Linked DNA regions of Homo sapiens. The protein of the gene in region 2 interacts with the protein of the main gene of each other region in a pairwise test. Each region holds a gene or a part of one and is shown on either strand. Other genes may lie near its edges.

Region 1 (5,314 bases), 9.5 Mb from region 2:
TGTATAGTATGCTATCCTTCGTGTAAGAAAGGAATATGAGAAAACATGTATGTATCTGCTCATTTGGGCAAAATAAATACAGGAAAGGTTAAACCAGAAACCAAAGGGGCTGATTACCCTACAGGGAGGGCCAGGGAAAGAAGTGGAAAGAAATGGGGAATGGGAACAGGGTAGAAGGGATGACGAAGGAGTGACATTTCTCCGAGTATAGGTTTTTGTATAACCCTGACTCTTTGGATCATAGTAATGATGCACATACCCAAAATATAAATAAAAAATTAAAATCAACCGGGATATTGGGGTGAGGGTACCCCAAATCAAACAGAAACAGGTTCAACTAACAATATTACAAATGAGTGTCTTAACCACGCTGAAGGAGAGAGGAAGAAAAGATCTAAGATACATAACTTTGGAGAGCAGTATTTTGACTATATCCTCTAAGGCCAAAGACAAAAACAACTGTACAAAAATATAAGTTATTAACATGTTTGCAACAGGGGCATTTGTTAGCAATTCAGGCGCTACTTTATGTATCTACTGACCAGAAATAAACAGGTATGTAAACTATTTGATAATGAAAGCCAGGTCGGAGAACGAATCTACAAATAAGTCTAGAATGATTGGAATTGAAAGTATCAATACAAGCTCCTGGCTTTTAATAGCTATGCATACAGATAGATACCAAAATAAATGTGGATGTGTCTATAGGCATGGGTGTATACATACATTATTTCCTAACCCTCTCCATAGAGAGAGCCTTAGCAGCAATGAAACGCCATTAATAATGAACACACACCGAGATACTGGTTGGTAAATATCATTCCCCAAGAAAGGGAACCGGGGCTCCTCGTAGAAGTTGTTTTAATCCAGGGCTATAAGGGGTGTGTGTGTGTGAGGGGAGGGGGGCACACACATGCTGAATCTGAACATCTTATTGTGCCAGAAAAAGGTACCAAAAAAGGATAGGGTCATATCAAAAGACCACAGAACCAACCAAAATGACTTCCCAATGGCCAAGGCTAGAACAGTTCAAAGAACAAAATAATGATATAATTAGATTAAATTTTTATTTTATTTTATTGCAAGTTCCAGGATACATGCGCAGGATGTGCAGGTTCATTACATAGGTAAACCTGCGCCCTGGTGGTTTGCTGCACCCATCAACCCATCACCTAGGTATTAAGCCTGGCATGTATAACATAATTATTCAAGAGCCCATACTGAGATAAATAAATTGAAGAAATAAATGAATGAGGGAGTAAAGATAGCTCTTCCTTACAGAGGAATTCCAATTAATAAATGTAGCAGAAATTAGGAAAACAGAAAATCACCATTAGGTAATATTTGCTGTAGGCAAGATCCCTAGACAGATTTTAACAGTAGTGGGTCAAAGTCTGCGAAGAAACAGGAATATAAGAGGATCTATTGTGTTTCTTCTTAAAGAACTTTTCACACTATATTTATTACTAACAAAGAGGAAAATAGTAGCATTACACTGGGGCAGCATAACTCCCACCACTTTAACCAAGTGATCAAGGTGAGCACCACCAGTAATACAACTTATGGATGTCATGTACCCCTGACATGATCCACATAGAAGGGAACGAAATCACGTTTGCGGTAATGTCGCATAAGACCTAAAATTAGAGGTCCAATTATATGGATGCCTTGACATCTGGGGTAGAACAGGAGGACCCTGAATGGCCTCACCACAAGTTATCTTCCCTATTGGGTTCCCAGGGAGAAAGGCCCCCTGGCCAAAGTACCCTCCTTATTATCATGTTGAACAGACACAGTGCCTGCTTATCTCTGGGTAGCATGTTTCAGGTCCCCACCAGCCTGCAGAATTATTCAAACAAGCCAATCGTCCTACCCTGAACCAACGGTCACTTCATCCTCTGGTTACTACAAAGACTTCCCCCTGAAAGCCCCTGCTTGTTCACTCTCTTCCAGAGTGTGACACTGTGTGGCTCTACCTGGCGTGAGGTGCCCTCCTCTCTCCAGTTGTGAGTAAATGTTACTGATAAATTGCTGTGGATTCCGTCTGTCCAGTATAGGGTACCATGTGTTCAGCCGCCCCCATAACACTAGGGTGGGAATCCCTCCCTCGCCACTGGGAAAGGGAGGAGAATAAAACAGGTGTGCTTGCTACAAATGCACAACTTCAATCTAATCATAAGAAAACATGAGACAAACACAAATTGAGAGACATTCCACAAAATACCTGACTGGTATCTCCAAAAGTGTCAGGGCTGTGGAAGACCAATAAAGATTGAGGAAATGTCAGCCTGGAGGAGACTAAGGAGAAATGAAGACCAAATGCAATGAAGCGTCCTGGATAAGATCCTAGAATAGAAAAAGGACATCAGTGAGATATCTGGTGAAATTCACATAAAATCTGTAGATTAGTTAATAGTACTACATCAATGCTAACTGTTGGTAATTAACATCGATGTAGTAATGTCAATTAGTGCATCAATGTAATGTAGTAGTTAGTTTTGGTAATTTTTCTATGGTTATATAAGATGTTAACATTAAGGAAATCCAGGCGAGGGCTCTCTGTATAATCATTTTTGTAACTTTTCTGTAAGTCTAAAATTATTTCAGAGTAAAGAATTTTAAAAGACAAAATCAGTGGCTAAAGGGCTGGCAACCTATAAACCACACTGCTTAACAATAACCAATTGAAACATAGTTAGAAGGATGCATACAAAGAGGGATACATGCTCATACCACATGATTCATTAAAAAGATTATAAGAGATGAAAGCCCAGTCATCTTCAACACACAGGTGAATATGTATTTACTCTTCAGATGAGGAAAGCATTTTTAAGCATAAAAGGAATGAAATACAATAGAAAGAAAAATATCTATACAATCCAATATTTACAATTTAAAGCCCGCCATATCAAAATTAACCATAAACAAAACTAAGATGCAAAAGAGAAATATAACTTTCTGAAGAAGAAGAGAAAACCTGCCTGAGAAATTGCAAAGAGAGAACATGAAGTGATTAGCCATACAATTGAACCTAATCACACGTGAAGATAAGGGATACATAGAGAGTGGACTGGAGAGTGGACCACTGAGCAATCCAGCCGGATTTGCCTTTCCTATGAATCCCTAAACCTTGACCCTAGGTAATGTAGGCCAAAAAAGGCCTAGTTTATATAAAATTTATAGAAGGGCCGGGCACGGACGCTCACGCCTGTAATCCCAGCACTTTGGAAGGCCGAGGCGGTGGATCCCCTGAGGTCGGGAGTTGGAGACCAGCCTAACCAATATGGAGAAACCCCCTCTCTACTAAAAATACAAAAATTAGCCTGGCATGATGGCGCATGCCTGTAATCCCAGGTACTTGGGAGTGAGGCAGGAGAATCGCTTGAACCCGGGAGGTGGGGGTTGTGGTGAGCCGAGATCGCGACATTACGCCCCAGCCTGGGCAACAAGAGCCAAACTCCGTCTCAAAAAAAAAAAAAAAAAAAAAAAAAAGGCAAAAAAGAAAAGAAAGGAAATTTATGGAAAAGATATTGTTGTAATTTACCTAATTGGAAGAAGACTTGGAACCAACCTGGGAGCTACACTTCCCCTCAGAATCTTGCCACAAACAAGACGCAATCTTGTGGGTGGGGCCCAGCGTCTTAACGGTTCCTTCTCAAAGCAGTGGGGAGAGGACTTCAATTGGCTCAGCTTGGTCAGGTGACCTCCTTTGACCAATCATCTCCATACTGGGAGGCGGAGCCAGATTCCTGCCCCTCCCCCTCCTGGGGCTCGGGGGACGGGGGGCAGGGAAGGAGAAGGGGTTTCGAGAAACCAAGGGTGGGAGAGCGGGAGGGGCAGGAAGGATTGTGGGACAGGCGGGTGGGAGTGTGTGAGGTGGAAAGGGAGGGGTGTTCTGATTATAAGCCTGCCCCACCCGCTGATTTCGTCTTAGGTGAAAAGTGAGGCACAATGCCATTGTGTATGGCCTGGGCACTGGCCAGCCAGGGTTTCTTTGCTTTCTTTCTTTCTTTTTTTTTCTTTTCTTTTCTTTTCTTTTTTTTTTTTTTTTTTTTTTTTTTTTGAGACGGCGTCTCGCTCTGTTGCCCAGGCTGGAGTGCACTGGCGGGATCCCATCTCATGCAACCTCTGCCTCCCGGGTTCAAGCAATTCTCCTACCTCAGCCTCCCGAGTAGCTGGCATTACAGGCACCTGCCACCACGCCCGGCTGGTTTTTCTATTTTCAGTGGAGACGGGGTTTTACCATGTTAGCCAGGATGGTGTCCCTCTCTTGACCTCGTAATCCGCCCGACTCGGCCTCACAAAGTGCTGGGATTACAGGCGTGAGCCACCGCGCCTGGCCCCAGCGAGGGTTTCTACCAGGCCACGTCTCAACACAGACAGTTAAAAGCTCAAATTTAGTGGACGTGTAGCAGGGGATGCTTACTTAAAAAACGCATGGCCACTTGATGGCAAAAGGCTGTCAGATATTAGTGTCTCTGGTTCTCTGATATATTAAAGAAGGAACTGAGTCCTGACCAAAGATAGGAAAAATGTGTTGTCCTCTGCAGTGAAGCCAACAGAGCATTTACACTGATGCCTGGCAAAGGCGGCACAAAGGAGAAGACTTCCACCCATCTAATAATACTATCAATTGCAAAGCAGCCAATATTTGTTTGAATGTCCAACCCTCAGCCCACACTCCTGATTCCACTTCTTCCCTATTTGATTTTTCCCCCCCGCAGTCATCTTCTGGAATGCAATATATTTTAATCATATGCTGTTTTTGTTTTTTATTGTCTGTCTCCCATGGTGGAAAAATAAAAATTCCAGAAGGGCAAATATCTTTGTCTATTGCTCATTAATGTACCCTAAGTGCCTATAACAATGCCTGCTTCAGTGGATACTTTGAATGAATAAATGGATTTTTCTCCAGCCACACTAGCCTCCTTTTTGTTGCTCTAACACTAGCTCAGCAAGCATACTCCCATACCGTTGAGTGTTTTTCTGTAACAGCCTGGCTTTAGATATCCCTATAGCTACCTTCCTTACTTAGTGTACATCTCTGATCACCTTATCAGACATGTGGTACTTTTCTTCATGACAGTTAGCATGTCACTGTGTTGTTTTTGTTTTCTTTTGTTGTTTTCTTTTACTCTAATTACAGGTAAAGAAGCAGATCAGCTATGTCTGTTTTAATTTTTGCAGTACAGTGTCATCTTTCAGTAGATGGGGTAATGGGCATCAGGTATCTTAGGATTGAATCCGTGGCATTACCACTTTGTAGCTAAATAACCTTGGCCAGGTAAACTCTTCCAAGCTTTTATTATCCATC
Region 2 (5,275 bases):
AATACATTTATATGTATAGCTCTTAACAGTGCCCTAGTACATAGTAGGAGCTATAACTCTTTGCTATTATTAAATACCTACCAAGTTTGCTGTAGATGCAGTTGTGCTATAAACACCTGAAGTTTCATAGTCTGGCTCTAGAGAATATAGCCAAAGTAAAAAATGAGCATTATTTTATAGCTTGAAATTCTATAAACAATGATGAATGCCAGATCACTTCTAGATCTTACTGACCTGCACGATAAAGATATTCTTCATGATATCGCCCTGGGGAAAAAAGACAAGACAGAAGAAATGTGTTTATATAGGTCTTTTTAGCTCAGCAGAGCCAAATGGCCAGCACTTGCTTTTTCCACCAGTTTTATGGTTATATGTTCAAAACTAAAATGCATACATCCTGAAAAGTGATATGAGCTTTCACACTAGTCAACAGATATTGAAGCCACAGACTAGCTGTAAGCTGTACAAATTTCTCCTCTGAAAATCCACTTAGCTCTTAGAGGTCAGGCAGAAGTGAAAACTCAGTTGTGTCCAATTTTTCCAGTGAGGCTACAGTGTGGTGATTAAGCACATAGGCTCTGGAGTGAGGACTGCCTAGATTTGAATTCTGATTAACTACATGACTTTAGGCAAGTTATTTAATCTCTGTGCCTCAATTCTTCACTGTAAAATGGAGTAACAGTACCTAGCTCATAGGCCTTTTGAGGATGGTTAATGGAAGTGAAAGTAACTTAGCATAGTGCTTTACACATACTAAATACTCAATGGTGTCTATAAAGTATGAGTATAATCCACTGTTTCCTTAGGTGGACATTAAGGGAACATGTATGCCTCATCTGTTTTTCAATCTGTTTCATGTAAGTAATACATGTAAAATGAGTGTGTCCTCAAAGGATGGCTCAGTAGACTGAAGTACTTTTAAGATTTCTGTACCACTGAAATGCAGAGAAAGTCAATACTCAATCGGACAGTTTTCCACCAAATATAAACCCGCAGTTCTAAACTAAATTTGATTCTTAAACACACCACTTATCAAACACACACGCATGAAACTCCTCCAGATTTAAGGTGGGAGCAAAGATTTGGTTATTTCAAATATGCCACACTACCCATAGAGCTAAAAGACAAAAGGGTCATCTAAATAAGAGAGCAGACAGTAAATGTCCTTAAGCACACGCATGCACACACGTACAAAGTTTTCACAGATCATTCTTGCACTAGATTTTTTTACTCATTAAATTCCTAAAAATATCTATTTTTTTTCTACACTAGTAGAAAAAAAGAGTACAAGAAAATAAGGAACTTATTCATAAGTCAAGTCATTAGGAATGCCTGACACCTCCTTAAGCCACTCAATGCTCCACAATTGTTTCAATAGGGATATACAGTATCTTTTAAAAGTAACAAGGTAAAAATAAACACATTCCATGGTAGGAGTCAACATAAAAACTGTTAAGGCTATGTGTGTGTATACGATTCCAATTATAAAAAATGTCCAGCAGAGGCAAATCCATAAAGACAGAAAACAGACTGATGGTTGCCAAGGGCTGGGGGTTGGGGCAAATGGGGAATGGCTCCTAATGGGCACAGGATTTCTCTATTGTGGTGATAAAAATGTCCTAGTATTAATTGTGTTGATGGTATGCAACTCTGAATAAAAAACCATTGAATTGTATTCTTTAAATAGCTGAATTGTATGATATGTAAATTATATCTCAATAAAAGTTACAAAAAATTATATCTCTGCCATTTACCAAGGATATGACCTTAGCCATGTCATTTACCCTCTGAATCTCAATTTCCTCATATGTAAAATAGGGACAGCACATTCCTCAGAAGAGCACACGAAGGACTATATTATGAATATAATGACTTAGTAGAGTGGGTATCACGTAGGGTTCAATAAAGAGTAATGTTTATAGATCAAATAGACTTCATAGTATGAAGTAACTATCGAATAGTTACTTCATAGTAGTCTTAAAAAATAATAGCCAGTCACACGAAAAGCCTAACATATACAAATGGTGAGGACAACTATCAATAGTGCCCTACTAACAACGAATAGATGTTTTCCATACTGATATCTGACACCAAGTCAAAACTCACTAAAGACCTATGCAGAGAGCTGAAAACAAGTTATAACAATGTAGCAGCCTAATGAAATAGAAGTCTACTCTTCTGAGAAATACCAGGACATATTCAAAAACCCAGCAAGCATTAAGAACTTATATAAATCTTTCAGAACTAAGCTACTGGAACAGAGAGAGACGCCAAAACCAAATTGGTCTACTTCACTGGCCTGATGTGCTAATGCCACAAGAATCTTTTAAAAAATATTTAACTGTAATTGACTCACCATTTTCACTCTGGCCATTGCCCTCCTCTAAATTCAAAGTCTGTTTGCCTGAGCTATGTCCCCGCCTTCCAACACAGTATCCTGAAGTAGCAGGAACCATTGTAGAGGGACCTCCATGATTCTGTATCAGAGAGACACACACACACTGCAGTTCTCACTATATAGTCAGAAAAAAAAGCTAGAGGGATGTTTTAAAAGGCAGTTTAAAAACTAGCCTAACAATGTGAACTGCTATTGTAAGAGAACTCTGTAATTAAATGTTTTCCATGCAGTTTAGAATACAAAAAATATGAAGTAAAAATCAAGAAAATAGAAAATATTAACCCATACTCTATAGGCAAGATTATCAAGTCTACCTCTATTCCCTTCTCTAGGAACAGCTGGGAGAAAATGTCTCTTTTCTCATTTTCATTTTCCAGAAAAGGCTTTGTTTGGTTATTTGTACAAAATCTAAAATTTATCCACATTGCCTTTACTTCAAAAAAATAAATGAAAAAAGTAAACAGCTTTTTGAGTAAAGCATTGATCCACTCACAGGTAAAGTTGGATAAGCAGTCTCATCCCCTTCTTCAACTTCATAAAAAGTAATAGTTTCTTCCAAGCCCCTGGGCATCTGTCCATTCCCTGGGGTAAATCCATACTGGGACTCCTTATTCACACAACTCATCTGGCGGTGACTACGTCTAAATGAACTTAAGTGGTTCAAATAATAAAAAAGTAAAAATGATGAAATATAGTAACTTGTTCCTAATTTCTAAATAACAGTTCAAATATCTCAAAGTTGACACTTTTTAAAACATTAATGTTCAGCAATGAAATCAGACTTACCAATTTTCTCTGACTTTCAACACAATACTTACCGAGATCTATAAGAGAAGTTATCATAGCTCTGGCAGCACCTTTTACCTGGGCCTGGGTAAAAATCAACTTTAGGGCCCGGCATGTTGTGCCTGTTTATAAACCGAGATGAATTCCTAAGAATAAAGAGAAAGGAAACTAGAACTCTCTATTCACTAATACCTAAGTAGTCAGTCTCTGTAGTTAAATAGAACTAATCTGTCTTTCTAAAAACATTCAACTAGAAAGAGCTCTGCTCTCTGCAATACTGGCATTAGGGCTAACTATTATTAATGAAATACAGTCTGTATGTCACAGAGACCCTCATCTTGATGGCATTCTATCTTCTTGGATCTCTTCAATTGCTTCATATTTCCCTAGACCATGAAAATACAAATCTGTCAATGTCTTACCTGGGCATCCCATATCCCCGACCTTGTCTCGGAGATGGATGCTGAGGATGAAAATGTTCATTAGACATAACATTGCCAGCTGTCTGTGAGTAGTGCATTGGAGGATCGTGCCCATAATGCATACTGTGCTGCAGCCTGGGTGGGAGGAGGGGGTCTCCCTTGCCGTAAGCCATAGTCATGTAAACTTCTTTCCCTCGAATTTTCTTGAACATCTTCTTCTGTTGCTTTATGTCCATCTCTGATATAACTTTCAGGCAAACAAAGAGGTAGCAAATAAGCTTCATAATCAAAGCAAAAGGCCCAGTGTACTGTCACCACCACACTGCCTTAAACTTTCCAATGCTTCCCCTAGGAACAAACCAAATAAACATAGGGAGGGAATTTTTGTATTTTTGAAGGATATACTAGATCTTTTATTTGGAAGGACAAAACCAGCAGGTAATTTCTGTATCAATGGGTATATCTCGGCACTATCCCCAGCATGGGCAGGTTAGTATAGGTCATCAAAACACTGAGTCATCCATGGCCAGGCACGGTGGCTCACGCCTGTAATCCCAGCACTTTGGAAGGCCGAGGTGGGTGGATCACTTGAGGTCAGGAGTTCAAGGACAGCCTAGTTAACATGGTGAAACCGTCTCTACTGAAAATGCAAGAATTAGCCAGGCGTGGTAACGTGCGCCTGTAATCCCAGCTACTCAGAAGGCTGAGGCAGGAGAATTGCTTGAGCCCGAAAGGTGGAGGTTGCAATGAGCCAAGATCGCACAACTGCACTCCAGCCTGGGCGACAGAGTGAGACTGTCTCAAAAAAAAAAAAAAAAAAAAACAAAACACGCCTGTAATCCCAGCACTTTGGGAGGCCGAGGCGGGCAGATCACGAGGTCAGGAGATCGAGACCATCTTGGCTAACACGGTGAAACCCCATCTCTACTAAAAATACAAAAAAAATTAGCCAGGCACGGTGGCAGGAGCCTGTAGTCCCAGCTACTTGGGAGGCTGAGGCAGGAGAATGGCGTGAACCCGGGAGGTGGAGCTTACAGTGAGCCGAGATAGCGCCACTGCAGTCCGGCCTGGGCCAAAGAGCGAGATTCTGTCTCAAACAAACAAACAAACAAAAACCCCAAAAACTCCGAGTCATCCAATCACACACATTACTATTCTCTAATAAATTATGCCTGTTAATATCCCTGGCTGCTTCTATGAGGTATTTTCCTAGTTCTCTAAGAAATATTTTTCCCCCTCAGGTCTCTAAGAAATATTTTTCCCCCTCAGGTTAAGATCCATGTCAGCTTAAGTTTTTTAAATTAATTTTTATAGGTGTAGAACAGTACGTATTTATGGGGTACATGCACTATTTTGATACAAGCATACAATGTATAATGATCAAATCAAGGTAACTGGGATATCTATCACCTCAAACATTTACAAATTCTTTATGTTGGGAACATTCCAAATCCAGTCCTCTAGTTTTTTTGAAATATGCAATTGTTAACTACAGTCACCCTATTATGCTACCAAATACTAGATCTTAATCCTACTACCTATTTTTGTACCCATTAACTAATCCCTCTTTATCCCCCACCCCCAATACCCTTCTGAGCCTCTGGTAACCATCATTCTACTCATCTCCACAAGATCATTTTTTTCTTTTTAGCTCTCAAATATGAGTGCT
Region 3 (4,798 bases), on a different chromosome or scaffold from region 2:
GCAGCATGCTCCTTAAGAGTCATCACCACTCCCTAATCTCAAGCACCCAGGGACACAAACACTGCGGAAGGCCGCAGGGTCCTCTGCCTAGGAAAACCAGAGACCTTTGTTCACTTGTTTATCTGCTGACCTTCCCTGCACTATTGTCCTGTGACCCTGCCAAATCCCCCTCTGCGAGAAACACCCAAGAATGATCAATAAAAAAAAAAAAAAGAAATGAAGGACTGACATTTACTTTCAAAATTACTATGAACATTATTCCTTCAGAAACTGAACACTACAAAATAGAAGAAATATGCTGCCACATAAGTAGAAAGGCCAACAACTTGTTTTAAAGTACCCTTGGGTTTGATATGAACTAGATCTAAGTATACAAAGCAATTTAAATCATTAGCAAAAGACTTGTTAAACACTTTTCCATCAAAATATTTTTTATTTATAATTTTAAAATCAGATAAATGAATTTAATTTTTAAAACACACTGTGTACAGTGTATGAGGACCTAATTAAATAGTTGTGTAACTCTAAATTTGCCAGTATCTTCTTGAGATCTTTCATCAATAAATCCAGTTTTCACTAATCTGTTATAATAGCACTATTTAAAAGGTCCAAACATTTTATTTAATTTTCTAGCTAGATAATTGAGAGTACTTAAATTCTCATACGACTTACCTTTAAGATTCCAGATAATTTTCAATAAACCCAGTTTTCAACATTCTACAGTATTAATCCTCTTTAAAATGTAAATATGTATCTTGTTAGAGATAATTATTTTTAATATTAAAGAAAGATGACTGCTGAAAATCTATTTAGTACCACAAAGGAGAGGTAGAACAGGCCTTACTGGAATCAAACTTTACAACTTCTCTTCAAACAGGATACAAATATGTTGATTCCAAATATCATGAGTTAAAACAAATCTATTTTACAAATGTTTTGCTCCAACATAACCTGCAATGATGCAGCTGAAAAAATTCATTTGGGTTCACTAAGGTAAATGCCTTTACATCTTTTAAAAAGTAATGGTTTCCCAAACACTTTTTAAAACTATTTTTTTTTTTACAAGTAAAGTCTTATGCACAATTCCAATATATAGAACAGATAAAACGCAAACCACAGTGCTAGTTGCTACACTGGTGGGATTCAGGCACCCTCCGCTGGTTTTCCCTAGGAAGACACTAAGGTGCCTCTATGGAATACCAGAAATCCTCCTGACAAAAATTTTTCCTCCAGTAGAAACCCTTCTATGTCCTTGTGACAAATAATAAAGAATTGTAAAATATCTGTTATCAAGCAAAACATGCAAGAAGATTACTCAGGTAGCAATTCCAAAACTGTCTTTTACAGTCCACTAAAATTCCTTAAAAAAGAGTTTGAATGGCTGAGTGCGGTGTTCCATGCCTGTAATCCCAGCACTTTGGGAGGCCGAGGCAGGTGGATCACTTGACGTCAGGAGTTCAAGACCAGCCTTGCCAATATGGTGAAACCTCACCTCTCCTAAAAATATAAAAATTAGCCAGGCGTGGTAGCATGTGTCTGTAATCCCAGCTACTTGGGAGGCTGAGGCAGGAAAATTTCTTGAACCTGGGCGACAGAGGTTGCAGTGAGCCAAGATTATGCCACTGCACTCCAGCCTAGGCAACAGAGCGAGACTCCGTTTCAAAAAAAAAAAAAAAATAAGAGTTTGAACAAGTCAGGATTTTTTATACTATATCTTCATCTTAAGAACTTCATTTTCAATTATAATTTATAAACTATGAAATCAAGTAGCAAAAAAAACAGTTCAACTGTTTAGCCTCCAAAATTTCTCAAATCTATCTAAACATGGACATCTTTTTGAAGGAATATTTATTACACCTCCTAATATTAAGATTTCTCAGCAAAGTTGGAAAATACTGCCATACTGCCATAAGCGTTAACTGAGATTACTATGTGAGCCAGAATATAGTAAAATCACGCTTATTTTAAAACTTGCACTACATTTCACAACAAATGATCTACTTTCATAATCTTTACGTGGAAAAGTAATTTTGCTGAGATCGTAAAGTTTTTTTCTTTCCCATTTATTTCTTCTCCTCCCATGTATGCTAGGAATGTTGCTCAGTAGATAGGAAGGGGTGGTTAAGGGGAAGTAACCAAGAGGTAGATGAGGTTGAACACAACCACCACTCTCCATAATCCTAAAAATAATCCTGCATCCCACAAATTGGGAACTACTTTTTGTTCAAATTTTCCCTATAACTCTACTGTACAAACTGTTCAGTTCTGTAGTAAGATTTGGTTCCTTGTTCTTTCAGAGTTTCAAAAATCTAGGTTAAAATTTTAGAGTACGTTTTTCATTTTCTCCATATATGCAAGCAGACAAGTCAAACTTCATTCAGTTTTCCAATTTACTCTTCAAATTTACACACACAAACTAACTGGCATCTTTAACGTGCCAATTAAAATCTGAATTTTAGGCTGGGCACGGTGGCTCATGCTTGTAATCCCAGCACTTTGGGAGGCTGAGGCAGGCAGATTACTTGAGGTCAGGAGTTCAAGACCAGCCTGGCCAACATGGTGAAACTCTACCTCTACTAAAAAATACAAAAAGTAGCCAGGCGTGGTGGCATGTGCCTGTAATCCCAGCTATTCAGGAGGTTGAGGCAGAAGAATCACTTGAGCCTGGGAGGCAGAGGTTGGAGTGAGCCAAGATTGCGCCACTGCACTCCAGCCTGGGCAACAAAACAAGACTGTCTCAAAAATTAAAGAAAAAAAAAAAACTGAGTTTCTAATCAAATTAATCATAAAATTATTCCAAAGAACTGAGTTTCTAATCAAATTAATCATAAAATTATTCCAAAGAACTACAGAGGTGGGCTGGGCCCAGTGGCTCACACCTGTAATCCCAGCACTTTGGGAGGCCGAGGCGGGCGGATCATGAGGTCAGGAGATCGAGACCATCCTGGCTAACATGGTGAAACCCTGTCTCTACTAAAAATACAAAAAAATTACCCGGGCATGGTGGCGGGCGCCTGTAGTCCCAGCTACTCCGGGCTGAGGCAGGAGAATGGCGTGAACCCGGGAGGCAGAGCTTGCAGTGAGCTGAGATCGCACCACTGCACTCCAGCCTGGGCGACAGAGCGAGACTCCGTCTCAAAAATAAATAAATAAATAAGAACTACAGAACTAATTTTAAGACCCAAAGTTCTTGAGCATTTTTTGCTTTTTTAAAGCAAAACAAACAGTTTCATTCCACAATGTTCTCTCTAAAAAAACTGGTGAATACTGAAAATGTATTTTTTCATTTATTTCTATCAGTGGCTTATTTTTAGTAACAGACAGAAATGGATGCAGAAATGGCATACAGATACCTAATAGCATTGTTCTTCAATGTTTAAATTGGAATTACGCTTGTACACAAATACTCAAAGCCACCAGTTACCAATTACTTGATTTGATAAAACTGTCCATGTCTACAATACAGAAGTAACTGTGTTTATAAAGCAAGTATGTTTATAAACTCCTTAATTCTATCACCGACATTACCAAGGTATGTTAAAATTTTCAATAGTTATCAATGAATTCAATCTGCAATGTCTTAAAAAAAGAAAACACTACATTTGACCCAAAATTGCAGGCAATTTCAGGTAACTAATCCCTCCTCCAAATACCCAAATTTCTAGCTAATTAAGCCTTTTATAATTAGCTTAAGCTATGAAGATATAGCAGTGACATTAAAAGATTAAGTTCCTTCAATACACACACACAAAAAACCTAACCATAATATATACAAATAATGGTCACCTTCAAATCTTTATTCTATATTTCATAACCTAGTTTCTGGTGCCTATACTTTCTGAAGAAGAACTCTCCTGTGCCATAAATCTGCAACTGCTACTCACTACTCACTTACTATATAGGTACACTAGATGAATGAATCCATGTTATGGTTAATCTCATTAAATAATCTATTTGAAAAATCAACTAATACTAATAAAAGGTTAATTTCCTAAAATCTGAAACTGTCAGAAGACTTACCTGATTTGTCTGGCTACTTAAGTATGGCTCAAAATCATCATCATTTACAGCATCTTTTTGATGAATCGAACCGTTTTGTACTGAAACTAAAAAAATGTTTGTATTAGAAGTGTTGTAGTTATCTTTATGAAACTCGCAGCACAACCTAATGTTTTTAATATTTTTCAAGCCAAAAAAAGTAATCAGAAAAAATAATACTGAGTTATTTTTAAGAACCCTCTTAAGGATAAACTATTTTAGATACAAATATTCATGTGCCACAAAAACTTAAAAGTCTTTTGATACATAAGCCCAAGATTACATAAACACAAGCCATATATACACTTCCCCTTACCAAAAACTTTAAGTAAATATCCCAATCTCAACACTGTAGTGAGTAAATTGTTACATAAGAATGTTGGAAAGAGTTCCCTAATGCTATATTTGAATGTAAAATAACTATTTCAAGTAGCGTTGTAGGCAATAAAAAAGATTTCTGAATGTTCTCTACCTTTGTTTAAATCTCTAAATTATTTAGTATAATAAAGAATGAAATAACTATTTTCGATCTAATTTGTTATAGTAAATGTCTTAAATGTCTCCAGTAAAGTTTAGGCTAAAATTAACTTGAAACAATATCACAATGAATAGACTTATAATTATGAAATATCTAAATAAAGAGGGCTTTAATTCTAAGCCCCCCAGAATGAAGACTTTCACATGAAACTACAAACAAAATTAAGACACAAAAGATAGCCATAATTATCCTTGCAATACATGAGAAACAAGTCAGAGAATA
Region 4 (4,798 bases), on a different chromosome or scaffold from region 2:
AAGGCGTTTTAGAACAAATACAAAGACAAAAGAGGGAAAGAAGTGCCAAAAATAAGAACCAGAACTACACTCAATTCCTGGTCAAGTGTGGCGGCTCACGCCTATAAAACCAGAACTTTGGGAGGCTGAGGTGGGTGGATAACCTGAGGTCAGGAGTTCAAGACCAGCCTGTTTAATATGGTTAAATACTACTAAAAATACAAAAATCAGCCAGGCGAGGTGGAGGGCTCCTATAGTCCCAGCTACCTGGGAGGCTGAGGCAGGAAAATCGCTTGATTCTGGGAGGTGGAAGTTGCAGTGAGCCAAGATTGCATCATTGCACTCCAGCCTGGGCAACAGAGTAAGACTCCATCTCAAAAAAAAGAAAAAAAAATTCCTAAACCCTTTTGTCATCAAAATGGTCCTACTTTTTCATTTACATAGCACTTCACTTACAAAGCTTTCATTTTGGAATACTCAAGATTAAAGTTTGGCTCGGTAGACACAAGTAACTCCCAGGAAAGCAAAGCTGCTGTGTAGCAGGGTATACTCAGCTCAGACTTTGTGACTCTACAACTTGGGTTTTAGTGTCCTCTTCCATTAGAAATACACAACATTGGCCTGGCACAGTGGTGCAGGCCTGCAGTCCCAACTACTTGCCTAGGGTGCAGGAGTTTGAGGCCACAGTGAGCCACGATAGCATTACAGCACCAATGCACTCCAGCCTGAGCAAAAGTGAGACTTTGCCCAAAAAAAAAAAAAAAAAAAAAAGACCACACTATAATTTTCTTTCATCTTCCATAAATGCCTTGAAATACTGCATATTATTCAAGTTCCACATACTGTTTTTTTAAATGCAAGGCCTCATTGCTTTCCCTCACCATTCCCCCTGGAAAAAAGTCTGCCTTAAACACAAAAATTGCAGTGAGATATAAAAAATGACACTCTTCCCATATGATCCAGCAGTCACACTCCTTGGTACTTACCAAAATAAATAAAAAACCTAGGCTAGGAGTGGTGGCTCACGCCTATAATCTCAGCACTTTAAGAGGCCAAGGCGGGCGGATCACGAGGTCAGGAGATCGAGACCATCCTGGCTAACATGGTGAAACTCCGTCTCTACTAAAAATACAAAAAATTAGCCATGGGCGGGCGCCTGTAGTCCCAGCTACTCGGGAGGCTGAGGCAGGAGAATGGTGTGAACCTGGAGGCGGTGCTTGCAGTTAGCCAAGATCGCGCCCCTGCACTCCAGCCTGGGCAATACAGCAAGACTCCGTCTCAAAAAAAAATAAAAATGATTTAAAAAACCTATGTCCATATGAAAACCTGCACGTGATGTTTATAACAGCACTATTCATATTTGCAAGAACTTGAGAGCAACCAAGATGTCCTTCAGTAGGCGAATAAACAAACCATGTTTGGATAAACAAACCGTGTATGGATAAACAAACCATACATCCAAACAATGGAATTCAGTGCTAAAAAGGAACTATAAAGCCACAAAAAGACATGGAGTAATCTTAAATGCATATTACCGGCTAAAAAGACAATCTGAAAAGATTACATACTACATGATTCCAACTATATGACCTCCTGGAAAAGCCAAGACTACAGAGACAGTAAAGATTGGTGGTTGTCAGGGGTTAAGGGAGAGGGAGGAATGATTGGCCAAAGTACAGAGGATTCTTAAGGCAATAAAACTATTCTATTAGGGATAAAAGACTTTAAGGTAGCAGGTAAAAAAAAACAAAACAAACAAAAAAATTCTATACTATGCTATTGCTACAATGTATTTTGATACCACAATGGTAGATAGATGTCATTATACGTTTGTCAAAATCCATAGAATGTACAAGACCAAAAGTAAACCCCAATGTAAACTATGAACTTTGGGTAATATTGACATGTCAATGTAGGCTCATCAGGTGTAACAAATGTACCACTCTGGTACAGCACTTTCACAGTGAGGGGGCACGGGGAGAGAAGGAGAGGAAGGGAAGGAGCAGGGAGAGGAAGAGGGAGAGAATAACAAGGGTTCTATAGGAACAATATACTTTCTGCTCAATGGTGCAGCATGTAGACAGTGGGGGAGTGAGTGAGAGTGTGTATGTATGTGTGTAACAAGGGTTATATAGGAACACTATACTTTCTGCCCAATTTTGCTCTAAACCTAAAACTGGTCTAAAAAATAAAGTTGGGGTCGGGTGCAGTGGCTCACGCCTGTAATCCCAGCACTTTGGGAGGCCGAGATGGGTGGATAACTTGAGCTCAAGAGTTGGAGACCAGCCTGGCCAACATGGTGAAACCCCATCTCTACTAATAATACAAAAATTAGCCAGGCATAGTGGCGGGCGCCTGTAATACCAGCTACCTGGGCGGCTGAGGCAGGAGAATCGCTTGAACCCAGGAGGCGAAGGTTGCAGTGAGCCGAGATCACGCCATTTCACTCCAGCCTGGGTAACAGAGGGAGGCTCTGTCTCAAAGAAAGAAATAATAATAATAATAAAAAGTTGAGATTACAGGTATAGCAGATGCACCTGTAATCCAAACTTCTCAAGAGGCTGAGGCAGAATTGCTTGAGTTCAGGAGTCTGAGACCAGGCTGGGTAACATAGCACGACTACATCTCAAAAAAATAAAGCCTACTAATTAAAAAATAAATGAGGCCAGGATATGGTGGCAAACACCTATAATCCCTGCATTTTGGGAGGCCAAGACAGGAGGATGGCTTGAGGCCAGGAGTTTGAGAGAAGCCAGGGCAAAATATGAGGACCCATCTCCAAAATTTGAAAAATAATTTTTTTTTAAATCTCACTCTGTCACCTGGGCTGGAGTATAATGGTATGATCTCGGCTCACTGCCTCTTGGGTTCAAGTGATTCTTCTGCCTCAGCCTACTGAGTAGCTGGGATTACAGATGTGCGTCATCATGCCCGGCTAATTTTTCTATTTTTAGCAGAGACGGGGTTTCGCCATGTTGGCAAGGCTGATCTTGAACTCTTGAACTCAAGTGATCCACCTGCCTCGGCCTCCCAAAGTGCTGGGATTACAGGCATGAGCCACCGTGCCCAGCCAAAAATGGATTTTTGTTAAAAATTTTAAATTTACTTGGATGTAAAGTTAATAAAGCATGTTTCCAAAACACTTAGAATATTGTGACATCACTGAGGGTCCAAATTGATATTTCTGTATCCTCGTTTAAAACAACCAATCAAGGATACAAGTATTTCACGACAAAAAAAATTAAACACTTCAACCTGCACATTCTCTTATCTGCTCTTCTCCAGGTGTTTACAGAAGCCCCTTTCCCTCCCCCACTGGTTTACCAGGTGAAACAGGTAATTCCTCAAGAGCAAATGACCTTCTGTCCACTTGGCAAAACCATCAAGAATGTTTAATGACTACAGATCTCCCAATTCAGCGTCACTTCCATATTGGCAAGGAAAATGTTTAATGCTCTGAAAGAACGGAACAATTCAATTCAGACATTGTAGAAATACTTTGCATAGATGAGCACAAGTTGATATTCAGATTGGACATAATTGCTTTTAGCCTCAGAAATTGGTCTGGTAGCCTAGACAGGGAAATAAGTATTCCTCTGAATAGTAGTCATAAAATAACTCACCACAGCAGCAATATAACATAAAAACCGTTGCTAAGAAAGCTTATTAGCATTTCTAACTTGTTAAATGAGAAAGACATGTACAAGTACGATATTAAATATTAAAACATTTAAGAATAAAATCCACTTTTTTTGAGACAGGGTCTTGCTCTGTTACCCAGGCTGGAGTGTAGTGGCACAATCATAGCTCACTGCAGCCTCGACTTCCTGGGCTCAAGCAATCCTTGCACCTCAGCCTCCTAAGTAGCTAGGACTACAGTCTCATGCAACCACGTCCAGCTAATTTTTTTATTTTTTGTTGACATGGGGTTTCTCTATATTGCCCTGGCACAACAATCCTTAATATACTTCCTTTCCTACTGAAGTTATCTTTTTCGTTTGTTAAAATATTTTTATTTCATTTTACTTTTTGTAGAGATGGGTTCTCGCAATAATGCCCAGGCTGGTGTCAGCACTCCTGGTCTCAACCCATCCTCCCTCCTCAGCCTCCCAAAGTGCTGGTATTACAGACATAAGCCACCATGTCCAGCCAGAAGTTGTCTTTTTCTAAATTAAGATAGCTTATTAGATTTTTCCTCCACTGCCTTCTAATTTTTCAGTAGGTACTCTGGTTCTCTATTTTGTGGAAGACCAACTATCCACATTAAAAAGTTTAATATATACTTAAGAACTGAATTGTGTCCTCCACCTCCCCCAAAGTCCTATGTTGAAGCCCAACCCCCAATGTAACTATCTGGAGAGAGGGTCTTTAGAAGTTAAGTTTAAATGATGGTCAAAGGGTGGAGGGGTCTAATTAGATAGGGCAGTGACCTTGTAAGAAGATAACTCCTCCTGCTATCCCCCCAGAAAAGGTGGCTGGCTACCTGCAAGCCAGGAAGAGCCATCACCAGAACCTGACCATGCTGACACCCTGATCTTGGACATCCCAGCCTCCAGAACTGTGAGAAAGTAAATTTCTTTTGTTTAAGCTCCGTGGTCTATGGTATTTGTTATGGAAGCTTGAGCTGTCTAATACAACATTCAACCCAACAGAAAAACCAGTGAGAATTTTTCTGGTGTACTAACCTTTTTAACAAAATTCTTGTAAGAATTCTGTCACAATGAGCTTATTCCACCCTCTTCCCAACACTACTGGTCATGCTAAGCCAAAATTCCAGCTAACTGACTCCAAGAAGAAGGCAAATGAAAACGGATTTGAC

What was found.
Region 1: the proteins of ALG13 (region 2) and NXF2 interact in a two-hybrid assay, tested with the Homo sapiens proteins (one large-scale study listed by BioGRID).
Region 3: the proteins of ALG13 (region 2) and YTHDF3 interact in a two-hybrid assay, tested with the Homo sapiens proteins (one large-scale study listed by BioGRID).
Region 4: the proteins of ALG13 (region 2) and ESRP1 interact in a two-hybrid assay, tested with the Homo sapiens proteins (one large-scale study listed by BioGRID).

Annotation. Positions count from the first base shown.
Region 1 is NC_000023.11:102,245,469-102,250,782, reverse strand, and holds the start of NXF2 (nuclear RNA export factor 2), read right to left. Parts: upstream 3,617-5,314; 5' UTR 3,545-3,616; intron 2,347-3,544; 5' UTR 2,225-2,346; intron 1-2,224. UniProt on the Homo sapiens protein: Involved in the export of mRNA from the nucleus to the cytoplasm.
Region 2 is NC_000023.11:111,725,387-111,730,661, reverse strand, and holds part of ALG13 (UDP-N-acetylglucosamine transferase subunit ALG13), read right to left. Parts: intron 3,854-5,275; coding exon 3,607-3,853; intron 3,331-3,606; coding exon 3,217-3,330; intron 3,049-3,216; coding exon 2,892-3,048; intron 2,478-2,891; coding exon 2,357-2,477; intron 268-2,356; coding exon 235-267; intron 138-234; coding exon 82-137; intron 1-81. UniProt on the Homo sapiens protein: Catalytic subunit of the UDP-N-acetylglucosamine transferase complex that operates in the biosynthetic pathway of dolichol-linked oligosaccharides, the glycan precursors employed in protein asparagine (N)-glycosylation.
Region 3 is NC_000008.11:63,174,639-63,179,436, reverse strand, and holds part of YTHDF3 (YTH domain-containing family protein 3), read right to left. Parts: intron 4,107-4,798; coding exon 4,021-4,106; intron 1-4,020. UniProt on the Homo sapiens protein: Specifically recognizes and binds N6-methyladenosine (m6A)-containing RNAs, and regulates their stability. M6A is a modification present at internal sites of mRNAs and some non-coding RNAs and plays a role in mRNA stability and processing.
Region 4 is NC_000008.11:94,647,192-94,651,989, reverse strand, and holds part of ESRP1 (epithelial splicing regulatory protein 1), read right to left. Parts: intron 1-4,798. UniProt on the Homo sapiens protein: mRNA splicing factor that regulates the formation of epithelial cell-specific isoforms. Specifically regulates the expression of FGFR2-IIIb, an epithelial cell-specific isoform of FGFR2.